7 linked regions of the Homo sapiens genome follow. The protein of the gene in region 5 purifies or fractionates together with the protein of the main gene of each other region. This does not show direct contact. Each region holds a gene or a part of one and is shown on either strand. Other genes may lie near its edges.

Region 1 (3,500 bases), on a different chromosome or scaffold from region 5:
TCAGTAAAAAAGAAAGTATGGTTTCAAACACTTAAGATACGGTCCCAATTCTACATACCAGGATTCCTGTTGCTCTTAATAAAAGATTACCACTTGGGCCCTGGTGAGGACCACAATGCACAGGTTCTTATCCCCATGAAGAAATCCACCTCATGCCGCAAGTGTGGCAGTGTGAGCTCCCCGGGTACCATGTGAGTGGGGTGCGCTGCGGGAGGTCATCCCAGCAGGGTACTGTGGGGGCTGCTTCCCCTCAAGGGCATCTGTTTATTACAGGTTTAAATCACTGTTCCTTTATGTTCTCCTCGGTCCACACCCTTAGAGACCTGCATAATTCCATGGCCCCAAGCACAGCCTACTCTTGCCTCCCCCCAACCCCCGATTTTCACTGCTGCAAAGGATTCAGCAAGGGGCTGTGTAGGGCACTTTGAGGGAGAGGTGTGTACTGGAACAGCTTTACCGGTGACAGCGCATCAGATTGATTCCACACTTGCCCCAAGGGGCAAGCACATGGTTGAGCCACTAAAAATTGTTCAAAGACACAGCTTATCTTCCTAAAAGTAATCAATTTCCCCAAGTGTTTAGAGCTATTTTACAACTCTTAGAGAAGTGGTTCTCAAAGCGTGGTCCAGGGGTCCTTTTGGGAGGCCCCCGGATCAAAGCAGTCTGCACAACACCAACATTCCATGCTGTTTCCACAGCCACTCTGAGTATATGCTAGAGCATTTCAGAAGCTGAACGGAGACACTAAGTTTGAATTCGGAAGGAGAATCCAGAAGCTGTCAGTTAAGCCAAACAGATTTGTGAAAACAAAACCATCTTTCTCATTGTTTTCGTCATTGAAAACAGGTTCCACTAAATGGTTTACTTATGTTAATATATAATGGTTTACAATTTTACTTTATTTATTTGAGATGGAGTCTCGCTCTCACTTAGGCTGGAGTGGAGTGGCACGATCTCAGCTCACTGCAACCTCCGCCTCCTGGGTTCAAGGGATTCTCCTGCCTCAGCCTCCCGAGTAGCTGGGATTACAGGCGTGTGCCACCATGCCGAGTTATTTTTTTTGTGTCTTTAGTAGAGAAAGGGTTTCACCATGTTGGCCAGGCTGGTCTTGAACTCCTGACCTCAGGTGATCCGCCCACCTTGGCCTCCCAAAGTGCTAGGATTACAGGCATGAGCCACCGTGCCCGGCTGGTTTCCAATTTTAAATAGAAGGCACTTCAGCATTTAAATGACTCATTTTTAAATGTCAAACATGGTGACTATCAATAGATATAACAAAAGCTCTTTGGGGTCTTCCCTGCTTTTTAGGAGTGTAAAGCAGTCCTGGGTCCTGCCAGTCTGGTAACCGCTGACACAGCAGCGCCTTCCACTGCTGGAGCCTGAAAGGCTGCTCCCCGAGGCCATTCCGGTTCAGTCAGGATCCTAGTGGCAGTGACAGGTACTGCTTTAGCATTCACTTTTTCCAGACACCCTGTCTACTCTCATTCAGTTTCATGTGATTACTGACCAGGCAGGGATTGCCAAGTGAGATGATGGCCACCCTAAGTTCAGGTGGAGAGAATGGGGTTTCTTCTTTAAAAACCCTTCTCTCACAAGAATTTGCTTCTCAAATTGGAGCTGCAGCCAATTTTTTTTTTTTTTTTTTGGAGACAGGGTCTCTGTCGCCCAGGCTGGAGGGCAATGGAGCGACTGATCACGGCTCACTGCAGCCTCAATCTCCCTGGGCTCAGGTTATCCTTCTACCTCAGCCTCCTGAGTAACTGGGACTACAAGCATGCACTACAATGCCCAGCTATTGTGTGTGTGTGTATATCCACAATATATATATACTATATATATCCACTACATATACCCGCTATATATATATCCACAATATATATACACACTATATATATATCCACAATATATATACACTATATATGTCCAAAATATATATACACTATATATGTCCACAATATATATACACACTATACATATGTCCACAATATATATACACTATATATATATCCACACAATATATATCCACACGATATATATACACACAATATATATATACACACACTATATACACTATATACACACTATATATACACACTATATATATACACACACACACACACATATATACATATATACACACACACACACACAAACAATGCCCGGCTCTTTTATATGTATGTGTGTGTGTGTGTATATATATATGTACATATATATACACACACACACATATATATATATACACACACACACATATATATACACACACACACAGGTGTCTACCTGGCCTGTGTCTCCAGGGTCTTGGGAGCATCTCTGGGGCCTACTCCCCTCAGTGCAGGTTCAGCATTCCCAGTCCTGACAGCTGCAGCCAGCAGTGCCCACCCCCACCCAGACATTTATAACCAGGACAAGCCCTCAGTTAAGCAGATGGGGGGCTCACTCAAGGGGGAACCTGTCTATGAATGCAGGGTTCAACCCCAGCTGCAAACGATAGCGGGGGTGGGGGGGTACAGTGTACCAGGCAGTGTATCTGTCTAGGAACGCGGGGGCCACAGGGTATCAGGCAGTGCATCTAAGGCCTGCACTTTCCTGTCTGTGAAATGGGGACGGTAACGACCTCACAGCTTCCTACAAGGTTTTCTGAAGCGACATCCTGTGCCAAATCATCTGCGGCAAGTGTGCAACAGACGGTAGGTGCCACCTAAGAAAGTGACACAGCCTGTGCTGGCGAGGGCTTGGAGAGAAAGGCCCTCTTAGGCGAGTCTATTTGTCCGACATATTTGCCAACAGCCCTTTATGGGCTTGGCACAGGGAAGAGAGCGGGTGACATACTGTTCTCATGGAGGGCAGGGAGTGCTTCACGATGACCCAGGAGAAATTAAGTAGGAAGTACACACTAACTTATGAGTGTTTTTTTTCTCACAAAGGTGACAAACTGAACACAAACTAACAGACCAGTTTGAAAAATCAAGAAACATCTATATAGTGAAATTCTTTTTGTTGGGGGTGGGGGGTGGACAGAGTCTTGCTCTGTCACCCAGGCTGGAGAGCAGTAGCAGAACCACGGCTCACTACAGCCTGGAACTCCTGGCTTCAAGGGGTCCTCTGGCCTCTGGCCTCAGCCTCCCAAAGTGCTGGGACTACAGGAGCACATCAGCATGCTTGGCCTAATTATTATTATTTTTTTTTTGAGACAGAGTCTCACTGTCGCCCAGGCTGGAGTGCAGTGGTGCGGTCTCGGCTCACTGCAACCTCGACCTCCCAGGTTCAAGCGATTCTCCCACCTCGGCCTCCCAAGTAGCTGGGATTACAGGCACGTACCACCACACCCAGCTAATTTTTGTATTTTTAGTTAGAGATGGGGTTTCACCATATTGGCCAGGCTGGTCTTGAACTCCTGACAAGTGATCCACCCATCTTGGCCTCCCAAAGTGCTGGGATTCCAGGCACGACCCACCATGCCCGGCCGGGAATTCTTTAAGGGTGATGAATCATCACAT
Region 2 (2,446 bases), on a different chromosome or scaffold from region 5:
TTTTTCATCATTCAAATGTTACATAAGATGGGTATAATGATACCTATGTATAATGATACCTCTACCCATCTTAGTTATTTCACAGAAATATAAGAACAGAGGTAGTAGATATTAAAGTGCTTTGAAAGGCACAAGCACTAGGAAGATTAAAGTTTGCTACTAGGTAGTCTGGGACAGAGAGAAAGACCCTAGAAGTCTTTCCCAGTTTCTTGGCCCTTACCAATGGCTCTGGAGAGGTTGAGGCCCCCGTTGACTCGCCCATCCATGGTGACCTTGCCACCAGCATTCTTGATGCGTGCTAGTTCTACTTCATCCTCTGGTTTGTGATCATAGGACATGTCTAAAGCTTTGCCAGCCTCAGATACCACACAGCGAGAGTCTCCTGCGTTGGCTACAATCAACTGCTTCCCTCGTATCAGGGCCACCACCGCTGTTGTACCACTGTCAGAGCCAGGCTTAAGAGGAAGAAAAGGAGCATCATGGGGGCTTCTGAACATGCGTTCCTCACTGATGTGCTCCTGATCGTTCACCTATGCTTGCTTTCACTGGGACCCCCAAAAGAGCTTTAACAAACAGGAGAAGCACACATTTCATCTTTCTAGAGACAGCAGCACACTCCCTCTCCCTTGTTTTTAGATAATTCAACCCCAAAGGCTTACCATCTCATTCCCCTTGCAGAATAAATCCCCATGACTATTACTTCCATCCTAAAGTATCAGGGGGATCCCCTGTCTCAAAATCAAAATTAGGGGATTCACACCTGCCTTGTGGCTTTTCAAGACTCATTGCTCCCCTTCCCCACACACCTCCTCTTTGCCTTCCATCCCTGGCACCATCATCTCTTCTTCTTCTTCTTCATCGTCCTCTTCAGCCTCCTCGGTGTCATCCTCATCTTCCTCATTCTCTGCCTCCTCACTGCTGTAGCCATCCTCTTCCTCGCTGCATTCCTGCCAGGGGGAGGATCCCAGACTGCTGAGACTGGGATGATCCCCTCCCTCCCCACAGCTCATACTCAGAATCAAGAGGTCCTGACTGAACACAGGTCCTCAAAACACTGAAAGATACAAGTATATGGTCATGAAAATTGGGGGGATGGAAAGGGCTAGCATGAGTACAACTGACATCCTGAACTGGGCTTAGCAGTCACTAGCAAAAAGCCCAGGACAAGGCAAGGGCTGCCAGCCAAAAATATCTTTCAGGCACTGTGGCCAGAAAATAAATTTTCCAGAGAAGAAAACAGTCAACTAGCCAAGGTAACAACTATCTCCTTGTTCTCTCTCTAGGAGACAGACTCTGAAAAGCCAGAACTAGATCTGCTTGTTATAGTACCAACAAAGGAAGAGGTAAAAAGGCAAATGGTACCTGTGATGATGGAGCTCAATGAATTCAAGACTAAAGCTTAGAATACAGTGGGTCTTGGGGGATGATGTCAAAATAGGAGAAGGAAAGAGAGTTGAAAACTACAGACGGCAACCAAACAGGACCTCTCTGCAACTTCAGCATCTGCCTGCCCTCACAGGCCCTTACCTCACTGTCTTCCTCTTCTTCCTCCGCCTCATCTGACTCATCCTCACTGTCCTCAAAGAACTTGGACTTAGCAACTCGAGGCAGCTTGTCAGAGGCTGAAGAGCAGGAAGGCCCAGCCTCACCAGTGGGAATGCCAGGCTCACCAACTTGGCCTGCCTCAGTCCCACGTTCCGAGTTGGAGGAAAAGCCTGTGTAGGCCTTGGCTGTGGGGCCATTTTCTTGTGAAGGAGTTTCCCTAGTTGAGTCCTCAGGTCCTGCCTCCCCATTGAGGCCCTGGGACCCTGGTTCCTCGCCTGTCCCACCTCCAGATTTGCTGTGGGGAGGGCCCTTGTGACAGTTCTGCCCGTAGCGTGTCAGCAGCTCTTCAATAGTCATGGTAGCCTCTTCATGCAGCAGTGCAGCCTCCTCATTGTCCACTGCAGGGAAGAGGCTAAATCAGAGCCCCCATGCCAGACTCCTCATGGGATCCGTCCCTCTCACTACCTCAACAGCCCTTGCAGCCTCTAACTTCCCCACAACCTCCCACTCCCAAGGTTCCTCTCGCTCAAGTCTCAGAAGAACATGCCCTAGCTCCTCCTCCTCCACAGACTTCTTTTGGTTTTTGTGTTTCATCCCCTTCTTAATCAAAACAACACTAGTTACTATACTTCCCCTCTGACGTCTCATTTTTTATTGTTAAGTTGTAAAAACCCTATTCTGGCTGAGGATCCAGGAAGCCCACAATGCTACTGTGAATTAGGATTTAGGCTTAATGATTGGCTATTGGGGCTAATAACTGCTCCAGTCTTGAGGGGAAAAAAAAGCACATAAATACTAGCAGGAACCAGGAAGACCCCATCACAATGACAAAAGATAATGTATATACAATGCTTACAGCTCAGATGCCACTCAACGAAGATAATTCTCTCCCTCCTTTTCA
Region 3 (3,500 bases), on a different chromosome or scaffold from region 5:
TACTACTGCATAATAGTACTTCAGTCGTTTGAATTGATAATCTCTCAATTTTTCTCTAGACGTCCTAAAGTGGGAAAAACTTATTAAGCATACTTATACAGAAACACAAAAATTTCCCTTTAAAAAATAAATGTAATTCTTTCAAGAAAAACATATTACAAGCTGGCCTTCATACCAAACCATCTTTCCTTCATGACTTTGCCTTTATAAACATTAAATACTTAAGCTCAACTTATTATTCTCACAAGGTACAGATATTTGGATTGGAATTTGGTATCTAGGAAAGGAGTGTGTGGGAATTCGTGTGTTTATCTATAATTTAACTCACAGAATAGTTACTTTGCTATTACACACTGCCTTCTCAAGTAAAACCAATAAAGATAATTCTATTATAAAATATGCTAGAAAACCATTAGCTAAAAGACATTCCTGATCTTGCAAAATGTTTGCTTAAGAGTCTATAAGTTTGATTTTGCTTAACTACAACACATTCTTTTTTTTTTTTTTTTTTTTAAGGTTCCACACAAAGCACTGATACAACTCTTTCTTTGAAGGTCTTCATCTGCTCTCTCCTGTCACTAATCTATTTAACCCTCATTTTTATTAAGTGCAAATATAGCTCCACCTAGTGGCTTAAAAACTATCTTAAATTATTTTCTATATTGCACCATGATGATAAAAAAAAAAGTTTTATCATTCTTTCACTTTTCTATTTGATTCTCAAATAAGAAAAAATTATATAATTTGAAGGCAAACAGAGCTTCAATGATGTCTCAAAAAAAAAAGCAAAACGTACTAATTCAGAGCAACGAGGCTGAAAGAATTCAAAAGAACTCCAAATCAGTTTAATCATGAAATGTTTTTCAAAAACTGCAATAATTACTTTCATGAATACAGAAATAGAAATATACACGAACAAAAATCTTCTTGGAATAATGTACCACTTTTAACAGACTTTAAATCTGTTTTGCAACCTGTTTTAACCACGAATGGCACAAGTATAAACTTTAGTTTTAACTATTAAGGTGACCAGAATTCTGAACTAATGACATGAATTTATGAGGTTTAGTTTTATGTTCTATAGTGATTTAATACCAGTCTTTTTCTGGGGCATCTTCAGGAATACTTAATAGCTCTACTGGTCCTTGAACTTGCTCTTCCTTCATCCTCTCCTTTCCAAATTCTGAAGGATATATCTAAACAGAAAAAAATAGGATCAATGTAATTTGTACATTCCTTTACACAAATATCTAGACCTGTCGAAGTCAGGAACTCTAAAAGTCACAACTTGACTCAATGAAAACAGTAAGGGTGACTCACTTCCAAATCCACTATAGGAAGCTAGAGCATCTTGAGAAATTTTATTTAAAAATAGATCACTTTGGCTAGAGACTAACAAGATACGAGGCTTGGAAACAAAAATAAGAGTATCTCCTCCACATACCACCTGGGACAAGATGGTTCCGAGATCCAAACGAAAAATTAAAAGCAAAACAAGATGCTAAGCTCAAGGAAATGTGAATAAAAACACACACATGAAAAATGACTGAATTAGTTTACATGAAATACAGAAAAATAAACATATAATGAAGATCAATTTTGTAATAACCAACTTATCTCTGTCATACCATTTATCCAGTGCTTTCTTTTAAAGAAATAGAACAGAACTGACGACAACCTTATACAGATTAGGTATAGTCTCGATATAAGAAAAAGAATTCACTCTCACCAGGTGTGGTATCTTCTAAAATCTTGCCTACTTTAAGAGTCAAGAAATAATTGTATTAATGACATTGTTTTGATACTACTAGGCTTAATATACATTTGTTAATGAACACATGCTTTTTTAAACTGTCTGAAATATGCAATTTATCAACAAGATGATCCAAGTTTTTCTTACTAACTTGAATAGTATATACACAATAGGTTTAATATGTAAGTTTATAATATATATGTAGTCACATCTTTTGATTCTTTTTTTTCCTCTTTTCTAAGTCTAGAAATTCTCACTATTGCCTAAAACACAGGGTTTTTAAATTGTTTCTTTGGCTTGACTTTTAATTTTTTTTTCCTTTGCTTCATCTAGAATTTCGCTGGAGCTATTAGGAGGTGAAGATCTGAACCAAGTTCTCTATCCAATGACCTGTTCATTTGTCCAAATATTCAAGCAGCCTATTTTGATCTAAGTTATCATATGAACTCTTTCTATCTATTCTGTTCTACCAATTTGTCCCATTTTTACCCAAACCTGTCAACCCCCATAGCATCATGAAATGTTTAGATATTGTAACTTGTAGGGTGAGTTTTTACACTTGATCTTAGCCAAAAGGCCGAGAAGCGACAGGGTGAGTTTTTATATTAGCATGATTTCTCAAAAGTTTATTAGCTAGTCTAGGCCAGGCGCGGTGGCTCACACCTGTAATCCCAGCACTTTGGGAGGCCGAGGCGGGCGGATCATGAGGTCAGGAGATCGAGACCATCCTGGCTAACACAGTGAAAACCCGTCTCTACTAAAAATACAAAAAATTAGCCGGGCGTGGTGGTGGGCGCCTGTAGTCCCAGCTACTCAGGAGGCTGAGGCAGGAGAATGGCGTGAACCCGGGAGGCGGAGCTTGCAGTGAGCCGAGATTGCGCCACTGCACTCCAGCCTGGGCGACAGAGCGAGACTCCATCTCAAAAAAAAAAAAATAGTTTATTAGCTACTCTTAATTTGTTTATTCTTTTAGATGATTATTGGTATCCTTTTTCTTAACTTTGACTTGAACTGGGATTTTGATCAAAATTACCCTAGAACAGTAGACATAACATCTTTAAATATTTAAACAGAATAATACAGGTTGAGCATCCCAAATCCCAAATCCAAAATTCCAAACTTTTTGACTGTCAACGTGAGGTTCAAAGGAAACGCTCATTGGCGCATTTCAGATTTTGGAATTGCGATGCTCATCCAGTAAGTATATATAATGCAATTTTATTTCAAAATCTGAAATTCTAAACACTTCTGATCCCAAGCATTTTGGATAAGGGAGACTCAATCTCTAATAATGATTGAGGGCAGGGCTATTTCAGGCACTGCACTAAATACTTAGTTCAAGCTCCTTTATACTTAATCCTTACAATCACCAATACTATTGTTATATCCATTTGGATATATTGGAAAGATGTAAACATACTTGAGAGATTAATTAAGTGTCCAGGATCACATAACACTTACGAGAATCAAGATTTGAACCCAGGTCTGCAATAATGCAAAGCCTGGATTCTTAATTATTAGGTTGGCTTGAAATATGGTATCCTCAAAATTTATGTAAGTTTTTCAAATTTATCAAGTGTTACAGTTTACTTCACATAGGTCATTTGTGTTTATTAAGGTAATTTCCAAGAACTTTATGTGGTTTTGTTTCTAGTATAATTAGATTTTTTCCTTAATTGGCCAGTGTTAGCAATAAGGAATGCAATTTATTGTTAAAAACACTTCTTATATGCTGTCCCTTTACTGA
Region 4 (4,060 bases), on a different chromosome or scaffold from region 5:
CAGAAAATATTAAACAGGACAAGCAGGGGTTTCCAAATCCACTCAGCTCAAGCTACCCTCCCCACCACTCCACTGGAGCTCCTTGCCAAGGTCAAGGGCGCTCTGCATCATGCCAAAGTCGATGGTCATTTTTCTGCCTTCATCTTACTGAAGCTCTCAGTAGCAGCTGACACAGGTGACCACCACCTCCTCCTTGAAACACTTACTTCTACAAAACTACACATTTCCCAGTCTCCCCTTCCATCAGTGCCCACTACTCTTTCTTCTTTGCTGGGTTCCCCTCCTCTTCTTGGATGACAAATGCTAAGACTGCCTCAGGTCCTCAGCCTAGTTATCTTCTCTGTTCTTTCTCTCACAATTTGATCTCACCTAGTCCCAAATAACGACAGTAAATTCACCTGCAATCTCCATCCTAGTATCCATGCAACTGCTAACTACTCAACATCTCCATTTGGTATGTATTAGAACTTCAAATGTTCACTATTGAAAATAAAAACCTTGGGCCGGGTGCAGTGGCTCATGCCTGTAATCCCAGCACTTTGGGAGGCCGAGGTGGGTGGATCACAAGATCAGATCGAGACCATACCGGCCAACATAGTGAAACTCCGTCTCTACTAAAAATACAAAAATTAGCTGGTGTGGTGGCACGTGCCTGTAGTCCCAGCTACTGGGGAGGCTGAGGCAGGAGAATCGCTTGAACCCGAGAGGTTGCAGTGAGCCAACATCAGGCCATTGCACGCGACCTCAAAAAAAAATCTTGATTCTTTTTGCTCACTACGTTCCTCCTCTCCACCTTTCAATGTGTTCCTTCTTGATTCTTCTCCATGTCAGTTAGCAGCACCACCGTGCACCCACTTGTTCAGACTCAAAACTGAAGAGTTCTCTGATTCCTTCCTTTTTGTCACCTCAACTTCCCTCTACCAACAGTCCAATCCATTAGCAAGTTCCATTACCCTATCTACAAAGTATGTCCTGAATCTCACTGTGTTTTAGCATCTTCTTTGTTACCAGGCAAGCCCAAGCCACCGAAGTCGCTCACCTGGACTACCTAATTCATCCCGACTTGAACCCTCCCCAGCTAGACATTTGTCGCACAGCAGCCCACACAACAGTGACTTCCAGCAGCACTAAGAATAAAACTTGAACTTCCTACCTTTCCTACCAGGCCTACCTCTCCAGCCTCATCCACCCTGCTCTCGCCCCCTCACTCAGCATAGTGCAATCACACCTGTGCCTCTTCCGTCCTCCTACATGTCCAGTGCATTCCCATGTGGGGCTTTTGCACTTTCTGTTCTCAGCACTGAAAACTCTTCCCCACATCTTCACACGACTGGCTCCTCTTCATCATCCAAGTTTCTGCTCATATGTCACCTCTTGTAGAGAGGCCTTCCCCGAAGGTTTTATCCAAAACACTTTCTCTCAATATTTTATCCAAAACAGCTCTCTTCTAATCATTCACCACGAAAAGTACTTTTTGACTACCTTAAATTGCCTTATTTGCTCACTTGTTTATTTCCCTTTTCCCCAACAGGGAACCTTATCTGAAATGTCCACTATAGATCCCAATACTTAAAACAGAGTTGCTTGCACACAGTAACTTCTCAATACATGTGGAGAATGAATGAACAAAATGAGAAAGCTCATGGGGTGTGAAGAACAACTGGAAGACAGGGAATTATTCAAACCAGAATTTTAGGAAGAAAGGAAAAACCTAAGCACTGGCTCCAAATTTTTGTAGAAGCAGACGCATGGAAGGAGAGCTATATTTATTCTGTTTTCCAAGGGCAGGACTCAGGCCAACAGTGGCATGCTATAAGGTGACATATTTGAAAACCACTTTCTAACAAGTGCAGAGTCTCAAAATGGAAATGAGCTTCCACAAAAGGTAGTGCTCAGTGGTAGTGCTTGGACAGAGGCTGGATCATCACGTATAAGAAACAAAAGACAAGTTTCAGAGCCTAAGTGTGTCATGCTGGACAAGTCACCCTTCCCCTTGCTGGATCTCAGCTGCATATTAAACGCATTATTAAATCTCAGCTGCATTACTAAACACGAGAAGATTGGAAGAGAATTACCGACTTGTCCAAGCCCTCTCCAACTTTAAGACTAGGAATCAGGTTAAGTTCAACAAGTCTCGAAAATACTGTCCTCTACACCATAAATTCTGCAGATGCGAAGTCTGTATCTCCCTTGTTCACTGTTGTATCCCTAAGACCTGGCAAATGATAGGGACTCCACAAACAGCTGATGGCCATATGGGGGAGAGATGTGTCAACGAATCTGCCACGTTTTCCTCCTCGATGTACGGCAGGGACTGTGAACACCCAAAGAGGCCCAAATGGTTGCGTTCTCTGGAACAGAGAACTTTACAAAAGTTCCAGCAAAGCTCACTGACCCTGATTATCCCTTGGTCCAGTTTCTGGCGCGGTGACGGCAGTGTCCTTGTCTCCCAATGCCGACACCTCCCCCGGAAATTGTCAGCCGCCTCTGGGCCTCCCCGAGTCGGGGGGTGACCAGCGTCCAGCTAAAACAGAGGCTAGGGCCGAGGAGAGGGGCGGCTGCCCCACGAGGAGGACGACCCCCAAGAGCTCGAGAGTGAGGGGGCCGGGAAGTGACTCACCTCAGGAAGGGACTTGCCGCAGCTGAGGCTGTAAATCTTCACCTCATTGAGGCTGGAGACCTGCATGGCGCCGCACAACACTGTTCAAGTCCCGGGTCCTTTCCCACCAGCGTGCTCGAGCACCGTAATCCCGGGACCTCCGAGCCCCTGCTCCGCGGCGTGCGGCCGCTGGCGCCGACTGATGACGCACTTCCTGGAGCCGGAACACGCGGGCAAGTTCCCGGAAGAGGGAAGGTGGCTGAATCCGGGAAGAGCGGCGGCCGGGAGAAAAACTAGTGAGGCTCTGACAACCCGGCGTGGCTGTCGGCGACGCTGCTACGGGCAAGACTAGACACAAGCCGGGCGCGGTGGCTCACGCCTGTAATCCCAGCACTTTGGGAGGCTGAGGCGGGCGGATCACCTGAGGTCGGGAGTTCGAGACCAGCCTGACCAATATGGTGAAACCCCGTCTCTACTAAAAATACAAAAAAATTAGCCTTGCGTGGTGGCCGGCATCTGTAGTCCCAGCTACACGGGAGGTTGAGGCAGGAGAATTGCTTGAACCTGGGAGGCGGAGGTTGCAGTGAGCTGAGATCGCGCCGCTGCACTCCAGCCTGGGGGACAGAGCGAGATTCCCTCTCAAAAAAAAAAAAAAAAAAAAAAAAACTAGACACAGCTCTCCCTGCTGTTAGCATCCCGAGCGGCAGGAGGAGGCTTTCGAGTCTCTGCCCAGGCCGAGATGTCATCCTCCCGGGCGGGGGCGAGGCAGTTCAGCGAGTGAACCCAGCGAATGAAGGCGACCAGGGTGCGAATTCCGAGTGGAAGTGTATTCTCTTCTCTCCTCCAGTGTTTCTGCGATGTTACGTTAGAAGTACTGTAGGCCGGGTGCGGTGGCTCACGCCTGTAATCCTAACACTTTGGGAGGCCGAGGCGGGCGGATCACCTGAGGTCAGGAGTTCAAGACCAGCCTAGCCAAGATGGTGAAACCCCGTCTCTACTAAAAATACAAAAATCAGTCGGGCCTGGTGGCGCGCGCCTGTAATCTCAGCTACTCTGAAGGCTGAGGTGGGGGAATCGCCTGAACCCGGGAGGCAGAGGTTGCCGTCAGCTGAGATCGTGCCACTGCAGTCCAGCCTGGGCAACAGAGTGAGACTCCGTCTCAAAAAAAAAAAAAAAAAAAAAAGAAGACTGTGGCGTCATCTTCAACCCATTCCTATCTCTGGCCCTCACTTTCAGTATCTAAACCTGGATATTTCTAATTATGAAATATTTCCTTAAAGTAATCTGTTTTCATTCCTCCTGCTGAAACTCAAATACTTAACTATTTTTGGATTATAACTTTCCCAAGTGATCTTCTTACTTCCTTTGATTTAATGAACAAATTATTTTATGCCTTACTTTCTAAAACCCAAATATTATTGTTTTGCTCTCCTACCCACAACATTTTGGAAACTCTCAAAT
Region 5 (2,427 bases):
AGTGCTATATAAAGATATCTGATATCCAAAGCATGAAAGCACAGCAGCTACTAGGCTAGGAAGAATCTCAAGTTGACATCGTGCCATCAGAGCCACCCTTCCAAGACGGAAAGTTACTCCACTTTTTGAAAAATATGGCCGCAGACACTTCCTGCCCCGAGCTCAGCTCGATCCGACGGTATCTTCCCAGAACTTGGTCCTGAGTGCTCACAAACTGGCAGGAGAGCGAAGGCTCTGTGAAAGGGAAGTAAAAATAATTCCGAAGGAGGCCTCACCGCACCGACTCTGCCTCCCCTTTGCCCTACTGACAGCGAGGTGGCTTCCACCCTGCCCACCTCCAGGCCACCCTCCCCTGACGCCTCGAGGGTGACCTGCGGACTAAAGCCGTCCAGAGTGGCTCAAGCCCACCCACCAGTGCCTGCTCCAGGGGTTTCCCGGTCGCCCCCCTCCCCTGGGGCCATCCGACATGTCCCCGCGACTACACAGCTCTCTCGACCAAACGATTTTCACCAACTTTATTGGCTCCCGCCGGGACCCTCGCCGCCCACCTCCCCGCTAGATGTCACCGGCCCTCCATGACATCCAGCACATTCAAAAGCATTGCGGGACGACCATGAAAAGGGCCTTTGCTGGGGGAGCCAGCTCCCTGAGGGCGGCGTCAGGGTCATTTGCTCTTCGTCTTCTGACTCTCCGTCTTCTTGGGCAGCAGCACGGCCTGGATGTTGGGCAGGACGCCGCCCTGAGCGATGGTCACTTTGCCCAGCAGCTTGTTTAACTCCTCGTCGTTGCGGATGGCGAGCTGCAGGTGGCGGGGAATTATCCTGGTCTTCTTGTTGTCACGCGCGGCGTTGCCAGCCAGCTCCAGGATCTCCGCCGTAAGGTACTCCAACACCGCCGCCAGGTACACCGGCGCCCCGGCGCCCACTCGCTCCGCGTAGTTCCCTTTGCGCAGCAGTCTGTGCACTCGGCCCACCGGGAACTGCAGGCCCGCGCGGGAGGAGCGGGATTTGGCCTTTGCTCGCACTTTGCCGCCCTGTTTCCCGCGACCGGACATGATCACCTCTCGCCTACAACTCCAGAGACGGAGACAAACCGCTCTCGGCGTCCGGTACCGGAATGCAACGTACCGCACCCGAACTGCCTCTACAAACTCTTTACGGCCGCGCGGCAGCCCCTTTCCATTGGCTCTGGTGACCAATGACAGGCAGGCTCCGCTCCCAACTAGCGCTCTGGAAGAGAGACCGCCTCCTCCAGCTCTCTCCAATCAATAGAGCAATCTCCGAATCCTCATTTACATAGCCGCTCACATAAATAACGAGGCCAGCCGGCTCAGTCTTTGGGGACCCAGATGAATTTAGCGGTTACGGGTTTTCCACGACCACGCTCGCTTCCAAGCACATAAACTCGTAGGAAATAAGAAAACATGGTTGGAAACAGAAAACAATCCAGAAGAAGAGCTACAGGGGTTGTCCGTAGACGTTGCTATGCTAAGTGGATGTTCTCATATAATACACCGTACTACTCAGGTAGGTTTCTGTCTCCGCAGCCCGTGCTGCTTAGGCGAAACAACAGCCTGTCCGCGGAATTCTGCCTGCCCAGGACAGGGTCCGTGGACTGTTTCTTATACAAGCGCCTTGCCTCCAGCTAGCTACCCAACAGTGTAGAGACCACCCTGGTCTCCCCGCAGGGTCCTGCGGCTCACAGCCAGCCAATCGTTCACTTTTGAGTCTGAAGCTAGAGTGATGACCAGACGTGAATGCTTCCTGTGCTGACGGGAGGAACAAGCTCGCCTAGCCAAAATATCTTTTGTCTTTGAGGCTATGGGCCTGCAAAGAGCCACTAGGTTTTATTGGAGAGGCCAAAGTCTTGGCCTTGGCTTGCTCCCCGCAAGCCAGGGCGCCACAGATCAGCGGATCGGGTCCTCTGCGAAGACGTGGAGGTCCCCCGGGTCTCTTTGTAAATGAGTCCAGAGACTAAAGTCAGAATGGCAGCTTATTCTTATATACCTGAATTGTGGACCCATGCTTTTTGAAACAAAAAGAGTGTTTCAAGTGTTTTGTTTTAATTAAAAATTACTTTCTCCTAATTCATCGAGGTCATTTCATTTTTACCTGAACATTTTCAGTAACACAGTTAACACCGATACGTGATGTAATGTTGAACGCTTGCTTTTTAAAATAAACATTTTATGTGGATTCATTTACATTTAAAGTAAAGCAAATTTACCTTCTCACTATCCGAATAAAGATTTGACTTCATTGAAATAACATTTTCAAATATTTATGTATATGTCATTACTGCCTAGAACAATGATGAACCCATACTGGGGACTCAATAAATGTCTTCAGAGCTATTGTCATGGTTTAGGCGGTCTTTCCGGAGCCAGTCTGCCTCAGCCTAAATCCTGGCTTTACCACTGAGCAGTGA
Region 6 (3,500 bases), on a different chromosome or scaffold from region 5:
ACATAGGAAATTCCTTCTAAAATATTAACAGAAGCATTGCTATCAACTGTTGAATCAATCACCTGGCAAAAACACGTATAAAATAGTTATTTAAAAATAGACCACAATGACAGATAAGAGAAAAAGGTAAAATTAATCAAGATGAATTTCAGGAGGAGACTTAATCAATGCAGCATTGAGAAAAAAAAAAAGGGATTATTTAATCAGCATTCAAACCAAAACTTTCCATATGCTAGACAAGCACAATGACTTCTCAATTTCGATGTCACTTTGCCAACTTCATGTACAATTAGAATTAGAAATTCAAGCAGAATACTACTAGAAACATGCACTAACTCAGTTTTTAATACTCTATTATGTACACACTAAATATTGCAATGGAAACCTCTGAGAGCATTTTCTTCAAAAAATAAAAAGTGCCAAAATAAGTGCTATCTAATATTTAAGTATTCCACACTAGCATTTGTAGCCCCAATTAGTTTTGCAAGGTCGGGAACAGCATTAAATTACCTACCTTTGATGGTTTAAGTCTCGGAAGCCCAGTTCTATAAATCTTGAAGGGCCTTTCTCCACAGAAGTTAAATAATGTCAACAGTTTAGTAAGAGTTTTGATAGGGAATAATTTAACAAAGCATAACATTTGAGCTACAAACATGCAATATTTACAAAAGATAAAATTTCTTGAAGCTGCAATATCTTAATTTATGTAGTATCTAAGAAAATACTAGCTCATGTGGAGAAAAAGTCTAAATTTTGTAATAAAGAAAAAGCTACTACCCCACTCTTTTACTAAGCAAAGCCAGGCCAAAACTGGATTAAGAATCCAAGTTATGATCAGATGGAGTTACTTCTGAAAAAAAATTTTAAATTGCAAAAATATCATTAATGCTTGTAATAATCAACTTGTTACAATTATTATTTTTTTTTTTTGAGACGGAGTCTTACTCTGTCACCCAGGCTGGAGTACAGTGGTGCGATCTTGGCTCACTGCAAGCTCCGCCTCCCGGGTTCAAGCTATTCTCCTGCCTCAGCCTCCCAAGTAGCTGGGACTACAGGCTACAAATTTTAAGATACTGCAGCTTTAAGAAGAAATATAGAAACCCTTTGTTGGTTTCTTGCATCTGTTTTAACAAAAAAAAGTAAAGAATTCAAAAATAAAAGACACCAAAAAAATACCCCTGACTTACCACTGTTAGCGGCTAACATGTCAATCATTCGACCAGGTGTGCAAACAATAATTTCAGCACCTCTTTTCAGCTCAGCAATCTAATAAAAAAGATGAAACTTTATAGTCTATTACTAATGCTTACTTAAACACTAAAAAATACTGCATTTAGTTCTTGCCTAGTCTAATTAGAAGACTTCCAAGCTTCCTGCTTAATTATTTTGAATCTCGGGGCACTACTAAAGAAATAGCAACAACGTGACCACATAGTGCCATAAATTTGAAACAAATAAGAACTAGAGAATTCTGCAAATTTGATTTGCCACTATCCCTCAAAACCAAGAAATGAACTTAAGAAAGCAGTTTAAAAAAAAAAAGTGATAATCTCTTGAGCCCAGGAGTTCAAGGTTGGAGTGAGCTATGATCACATCCTTGCACTCCAGCCTGAGCAAGAGCAAGACCCTGCCTCAGAAAAAGAAATTTCTAAGTGACCACATAGACTAGTGTTTTTCAAATTGAGGGTTGCCACATTAGTGAATCATGAAATCACTTTAACAGTCATAATCAGCTTTTTTTTTTTTTTTTTTTGAGACAGGGTCTCACTCTGTTGCCCAGGCTCTGTTGCCCAGTGCAGCAGTGTCATCATAGGTCATTGCAGCCTAGATCCTGGGCTCAAGTGACCCTCCCATCTCAGCCCCTCCCCCCACCACCCCACACACCCTCCCAGTATCTAGGACTACAGGCACTCGCTAATTTATTTACTGTTTTAAGAGATGGGGTCTCACTACATTGCCCAGGCTGGTCACAAACTCCTGGACTCAAGTGATTCTTCCATTTCAGCCTCCCAAAATGCTGTGATGATTACAGGTATGAGCCATAGTGTTCAACCACAACCAGCATTTTTTAAATGAAATGGAATGGAAAATACCAGAAGTCCCTTAACATCATAAAACTTTTGTTTGGCATTTATATAAATACAACGTGCAGGCATGTACCATGTTATTTTGTAAGTGTATTTCTACAAACTACAGTCATGAAAAATCATAAAGATAAACTTAGAAAATGAAGTAATTTGAAGTAATTAAAATAGCACTGGAGTTAACAAAAGCAAATATTCTTGAAGTGTGTTCTTGTAACAATAGTCCTAAGAAACAGTTTTGTAGTTAAGTTCAGAAAACGTCACTTAATTTATCCCATTTATCTAGCAACACAATATACATTAGCTTATTAAGAACAAAGAAGTCTTACAGGAAAGAAAGTGGTTTTAACTTTTTATACTCCAACATTTCCAAAACTTATCCAATCACAGAACCTACTTTTTTGCCTTCTTCTAGTTAAGCAAAATATCTGAAAACTATTTCATTCTTTAGAAGACAGCTGAAGGGCTGGTCACAGTGGCTCACGTCTATACCTTTCGGAGGTGTTACAAAGGGAAGCCAAGGCAAGCAGATTGCTTGAGCCCAGGAATTCAAGACCAGCCTGGGCAACATGGCAAAACCTCGTCTCTACAAAAAAATACAAAAACTAGCCGGGTGTGGTAGCATGCGTCTGTGGTCCCAGATACTCAGGAGGCTCAAGAGGGAGGACGGCTTAAGCCCAGGAGGTCAAGGATGCAGTGAGCCAAGGTCACACCACTGCACTCCAGCCCGGGCAACAGAGTAAGATGCTGTCTCCAATAAAACAAAACCAAAAAACAACAACAACAACAACAACAAAACACCTCTGATATTAATGCATCCCAGTAATCACCATCACTTCCGCCACCCCCCAAGATGGAGTCTTGCTCTGTCTCCCAGGCTGGAGTGCAGTGGCGTGATCTCAGCTTACTGCAACCTCCGCCTCCCAGGTTCAAGTGATTCTCCTGCCTCAGCCTACCGAGTAGCTGATATTACAGGCAGGCGCCACCAAGCCAGGCTAATTTCTGTGTTTTCAGTAGAGACGGGGAGTCTCGCCATGTTGGCTAGGCTGGTCTTGAGCTCCTGACCTCATGATCCACCCGCTTCGGCCTCTCAAAGCGCTGGGATTACAGGCATGAGCCACCGTGCCTGGCCACCATCACTTTTTAAAGATGTCAGCATAGATTAGAGAAACAAATGCTCAGAGATCAGAGACCTAGGTTCCAGGACAAACTCTAGAACGTATTAACCTAATTGGTCAACTTAATAAATCTTTCTGAATATTTCCTCATATGTAAAATGAAAAAAAAAATCTGCTTTCTCAGGCAGGGGAAGAGGGAGGAGGGATAATCTATGTAAAAAGATTCAAAAATTCTAATCTAGCATTAACATAGTATGTTCTTTTTTGCCACAACTATATTGGGTCATAATTAACAAAA
Region 7 (3,500 bases), on a different chromosome or scaffold from region 5:
GCAGCTGTATTTGTTCAGCTGTTTTTTTTTTTAATTGCTATTAACCTTATGAACTTAGTGGTAAAAGTAAATGGTGTGTGTGTCTCTTATCCTGTTTTAAACTTAATGGAAAGGGCATGTTGCTGTGAACAAATGGAGTGTATTTGTATTTGTCTCCTCTAATCATTAATAATTAATTTTCTCTTAAAATATTGAAGCCTAGAATTCTGGTAAAGCCAAAAGTTTATGCTGATCATTGGGACGTTTTACAGTGTGAAAGGTGGCATTTGGTCTAGGTAGATTGTTTTGCTTTGTTCAGATCAAAGTCTTTCTTTTTAGAAATGGAACCTGGTCAGACCCTGAGGCGACATAATGAGAAGCCAAGAAAGGTTGAGGGACCTCACTAGGGAAGTCTCAGAAAAGCAGCCATTAAGATAGCAGGCTTTCAGAAAGAACTGAGAGGAAATCATGATCATAACATTAGCTTTATGATGTGTTATTTGAATTGCGTACAGACAGTAGGAGGAGTTAGCTGGCCATGCAACTATTTAGTAAATAGCTCTTCTTGCTGCCCACATACTTGCAATAGGAAGTAATTGTAGGCAGAAGCCAATAGTTGTGAGTGTCAGGAACCATGAGTGAGGAGGAATGATGCTACAGAGAGAGGGTTTCAGGGATCCACTGGATGATAGAGGGCTTATTTTTACTTAATGCCAAGGGGTTATGTGAGTACCATGCACATTTATAATTGACTTACAAATAAAATAATTAGAAAAATCTTCAAACAGTTGGACAAAAGACAGGCCTAATTTATAGAGAGTTAACAACACGAAGAAACATTTACTAATAAAACAATAAATTTATATAGCTAGGAAATACTGTCATACAGATATTTTAAATGACACTTTTAAATGACACTACCCAGTGCTGCCCAGTTGCATTAAAATGGACATATCCCACATTGTAGTGTATACTGGTACAGCTCTTTGGAAAAATAATTAGCCCTAAATATCAAAAGCCATAAAATTGTTCATACCTTTTGATTCAGTAATGTCATTTGTGAAATTTTATCCTAAGGAAATAATTCAAAAGAAGAACTACGTGGGGGGGAAATGTTTATTGAAGTATTACTTATAATAGTAAAAAACAGGAAACAAGTCTTAAGTTGAAGAGTAGGTAAGTAAAATATGTTTTATTACAAATTAGAACACAGTAATATCTGTACATTAAAATACATGCATGGGGGCCAGGTGCGGTGGCTCATGCCTGTAATCCCAGCACTTTGGGAGGCTGAGGCAGGTGGCTCACCTGAGGTCAGGAGTTTGATACCAGCCTGGGCAACATGGTGAAACCCTGTCTCTTCTAAAAATACAAAATATTAGCCCGGTGTGGTGGCGCACCCCTGTAATCCCAGCTCCTCCACAGGCTGAGGCATGAGAATTGCTTGAACCTGGGAGGTAGAGGTTGCAGTGAGCCAAGATTGCACCACTGCACTCCAGCCTGGGTGACAGAGCAAGACTCTGTCTCTAAATAAATAAATAAATAAATAAAATACAAGCATGAGGATTTTACAGTGAAAATACTTGGTTTAAGTTGCTGAGATTATGGATGATTTATTGTACCCTCTTAAAATGGACTTTGTTTTTTAACATAAATATTAAGGGCAATTAAATCATTTGTTTACTGAATGGATGTGGTTTGCTGCCAGGTCTGGCTTTGAACTGGTGATTGTTATACTTGTTTTTAGACATTTCTCTTGGGAAGTTGTGCATCTGACAGGAATATAGTACTGTACGATATGAGGCAAGCTACTCCTTTGAAAAAGGTGAGTTTCAGTTTTGACTTTTGCTTTATACAGTTGGCATTATATATTTCTCTGTAAATAGAGTGACTAACAATATGGAGCAAATATTTTCTCAGAATTAAAAAAATCTTTTATACAGGTGTTCTTAGAACTCTACATGATGATAGTCATGTTCTTTCAGCTCCCTATTGCTTTTTAGAGACTCTTAAATTTCTGCTAGGTATTGTATCCTAGTCACCAACCTTGTGTCTTCCATGATGCCAGTACATTTTAGGCCTCTAATTAATACTTACTGAATTGAAAGTTCTTAAAGGTATTGCATCCTGTTACTTAACAGTGTAATAATATTCAAATAATATTCAATAAATTCAAGCCCCATGATTATCGTATGACATGTACACTATTTTATTCCAGAAGGTTTTAGAACTCATTCACGTAACCAGCTTTATTTGTTCAGTTACATGCTGATCAATACTAGTTTGACATTTAGGCAACCACTATCCTGTTCAAAGTAACAGATTTCCTAACAATTCTAAAGTAGTAATTTCAGGACTTACATATCAGAGCTAATAATACAACTTAAGCTAACTCTCAAGAGGGAGACAGATACTGTCTGTAAGTAAGGAAAGGAGTGCCATTGTAAGTAAAAGGGTATAAAGTTTATTTCAGGTACTAGAATTTTGAGTGACAGAAAGGGCTGGACATCATTGAGATGCCACAAGTCTGTTGTCGTAGTCCACATACAAAAGAAATGCTTTTAATACTTGCTTTTGTTATTCCTAAATCATTTTTATAACGTAACAACTAGATATTAGGAGAGTACATTCATTGAAGTTTGAAGTAGATAAATATGATAATCTTTCCAAAGTACCACTTATATGATTTCACTCATTCATGTGATTTAATGGGAAGATCCTATATGAACTTTGGTCTTAGACTTTTAAGCACGTTAACCTAAAATGTGTTTCTCCTGTAAGGTGGTGGTATTAATAACTATCTCGCAGCACTTCGCTGAGAATAAAACATGATACTTTAAGCATTTAGCAGAATGCTGACATGAGGTACTAGTTTAATGAATAGTCATTTCTGCCCCCTCCCACCTACCTAACACTCATTCTGTTTTTTTTTTAATTTAGTTTATTTTTCATTGTTATTGCCTCCTGCTTTGCACATTCTCAGTTTTTAATGGAGCTCCATTAATTTTAGGTTGAAGAAAATGTAGCCTGGCTTTCAAGGTGCTCTGAAATCTGGTTCTAATTTGCAACTCATTTATTTCTTTTAGTCAGTTAGGTAACATTGAATTGGAGTTTGTCACATGCAGGTCACTTTGATAGATGTAGGGATTGTTAGACACTGCTACTTTCTGTTGCTTCTTTGCTCCATCTACTAGTCTATCAATGTTTCTTTTATCCTTTCTCTCATAAATGTAGTAGTTCTTAGTCAGGGATTGTAGTCCCCTACCAGGTACAGTTCTGGGAATGCAAGAGGGACATGTAGTGGGAGGTCCCTGAGTGGCAAAACATCCTACAGTGGATAGTCATACACAACAAAAGATAATCCTGCTCAAAATGCCAACAGTGTTCCCATTGAGAAACACTGAATTACTGATCCTTCACAGGTCAGTTCAAATCATACTTGTCTTTAGAAACAGTTCTTTATGTTAACCCTAAGCTCACCATTAATTTTGCCCCTAATTTGATACTTAGTCATTTGTTAC

What was found.
Region 1: the proteins of H2AJ (region 5) and DIDO1 purify together in Homo sapiens (affinity purification with mass spectrometry; one large-scale study listed by BioGRID and IntAct). This does not show direct contact.
Region 2: the proteins of H2AJ (region 5) and PPM1G purify together in Homo sapiens (affinity purification with mass spectrometry; one large-scale study listed by BioGRID and IntAct). This does not show direct contact.
Region 3: the proteins of H2AJ (region 5) and ESF1 purify together in Homo sapiens (affinity purification with mass spectrometry; one large-scale study listed by BioGRID and IntAct). This does not show direct contact.
Region 4: the proteins of H2AJ (region 5) and NOL10 purify together in Homo sapiens (affinity purification with mass spectrometry; one large-scale study listed by BioGRID and IntAct). This does not show direct contact.
Region 6: the proteins of H2AJ (region 5) and DDX46 purify together in Homo sapiens (affinity purification with mass spectrometry; one large-scale study listed by BioGRID and IntAct). This does not show direct contact.
Region 7: the proteins of H2AJ (region 5) and DCAF13 purify together in Homo sapiens (affinity purification with mass spectrometry; one large-scale study listed by BioGRID and IntAct). This does not show direct contact.

What each region holds. Positions count from the first base shown.
Region 1 is NC_000020.11:62,920,006-62,923,505, forward strand, and holds part of DIDO1 (death-inducer obliterator 1), read right to left. Parts: intron 1-3,500. UniProt on the Homo sapiens protein: Putative transcription factor, weakly pro-apoptotic when overexpressed. Tumor suppressor. Required for early embryonic stem cell development.
Region 2 is NC_000002.12:27,383,146-27,385,591, forward strand, and holds part of PPM1G (protein phosphatase 1G), read right to left. Parts: intron 1,944-2,446; coding exon 1,528-1,943; intron 948-1,527; coding exon 807-947; intron 456-806; coding exon 221-455; intron 1-220.
Region 3 is NC_000020.11:13,771,420-13,774,919, forward strand, and holds part of ESF1 (ESF1 homolog), read right to left. Parts: intron 1,197-3,500; coding exon 1,096-1,196; intron 65-1,095; coding exon 1-64. UniProt on the Homo sapiens protein: May constitute a novel regulatory system for basal transcription. Negatively regulates ABT1.
Region 4 is NC_000002.12:10,687,176-10,691,235, forward strand, and holds the start of NOL10 (nucleolar protein 10), read right to left. Parts: upstream 2,801-4,060; 5' UTR 2,687-2,800; coding exon 2,621-2,686; intron 1-2,620.
Region 5 is NC_000012.12:14,773,098-14,775,524, reverse strand, and holds H2AJ (histone H2A.J), read right to left. Parts: upstream 1,121-2,427; 5' UTR 1,055-1,120; coding exon 665-1,054; 3' UTR 501-664; downstream 1-500. UniProt on the Homo sapiens protein: Core component of nucleosome. Nucleosomes wrap and compact DNA into chromatin, limiting DNA accessibility to the cellular machineries which require DNA as a template.
Region 6 is NC_000005.10:134,786,279-134,789,778, reverse strand, and holds part of DDX46 (probable ATP-dependent RNA helicase DDX46), read right to left. Parts: intron 1,267-3,500; coding exon 1,188-1,266; intron 564-1,187; coding exon of another isoform or gene 511-563; exon of another isoform or gene 165-510; intron 1-164. UniProt on the Homo sapiens protein: Component of the 17S U2 SnRNP complex of the spliceosome, a large ribonucleoprotein complex that removes introns from transcribed pre-mRNAs.
Region 7 is NC_000008.11:103,428,886-103,432,385, forward strand, and holds part of DCAF13 (DDB1- and CUL4-associated factor 13), read left to right. Parts: intron 1-1,726; coding exon 1,727-1,804; intron 1,805-3,500. UniProt on the Homo sapiens protein: Part of the small subunit (SSU) processome, first precursor of the small eukaryotic ribosomal subunit.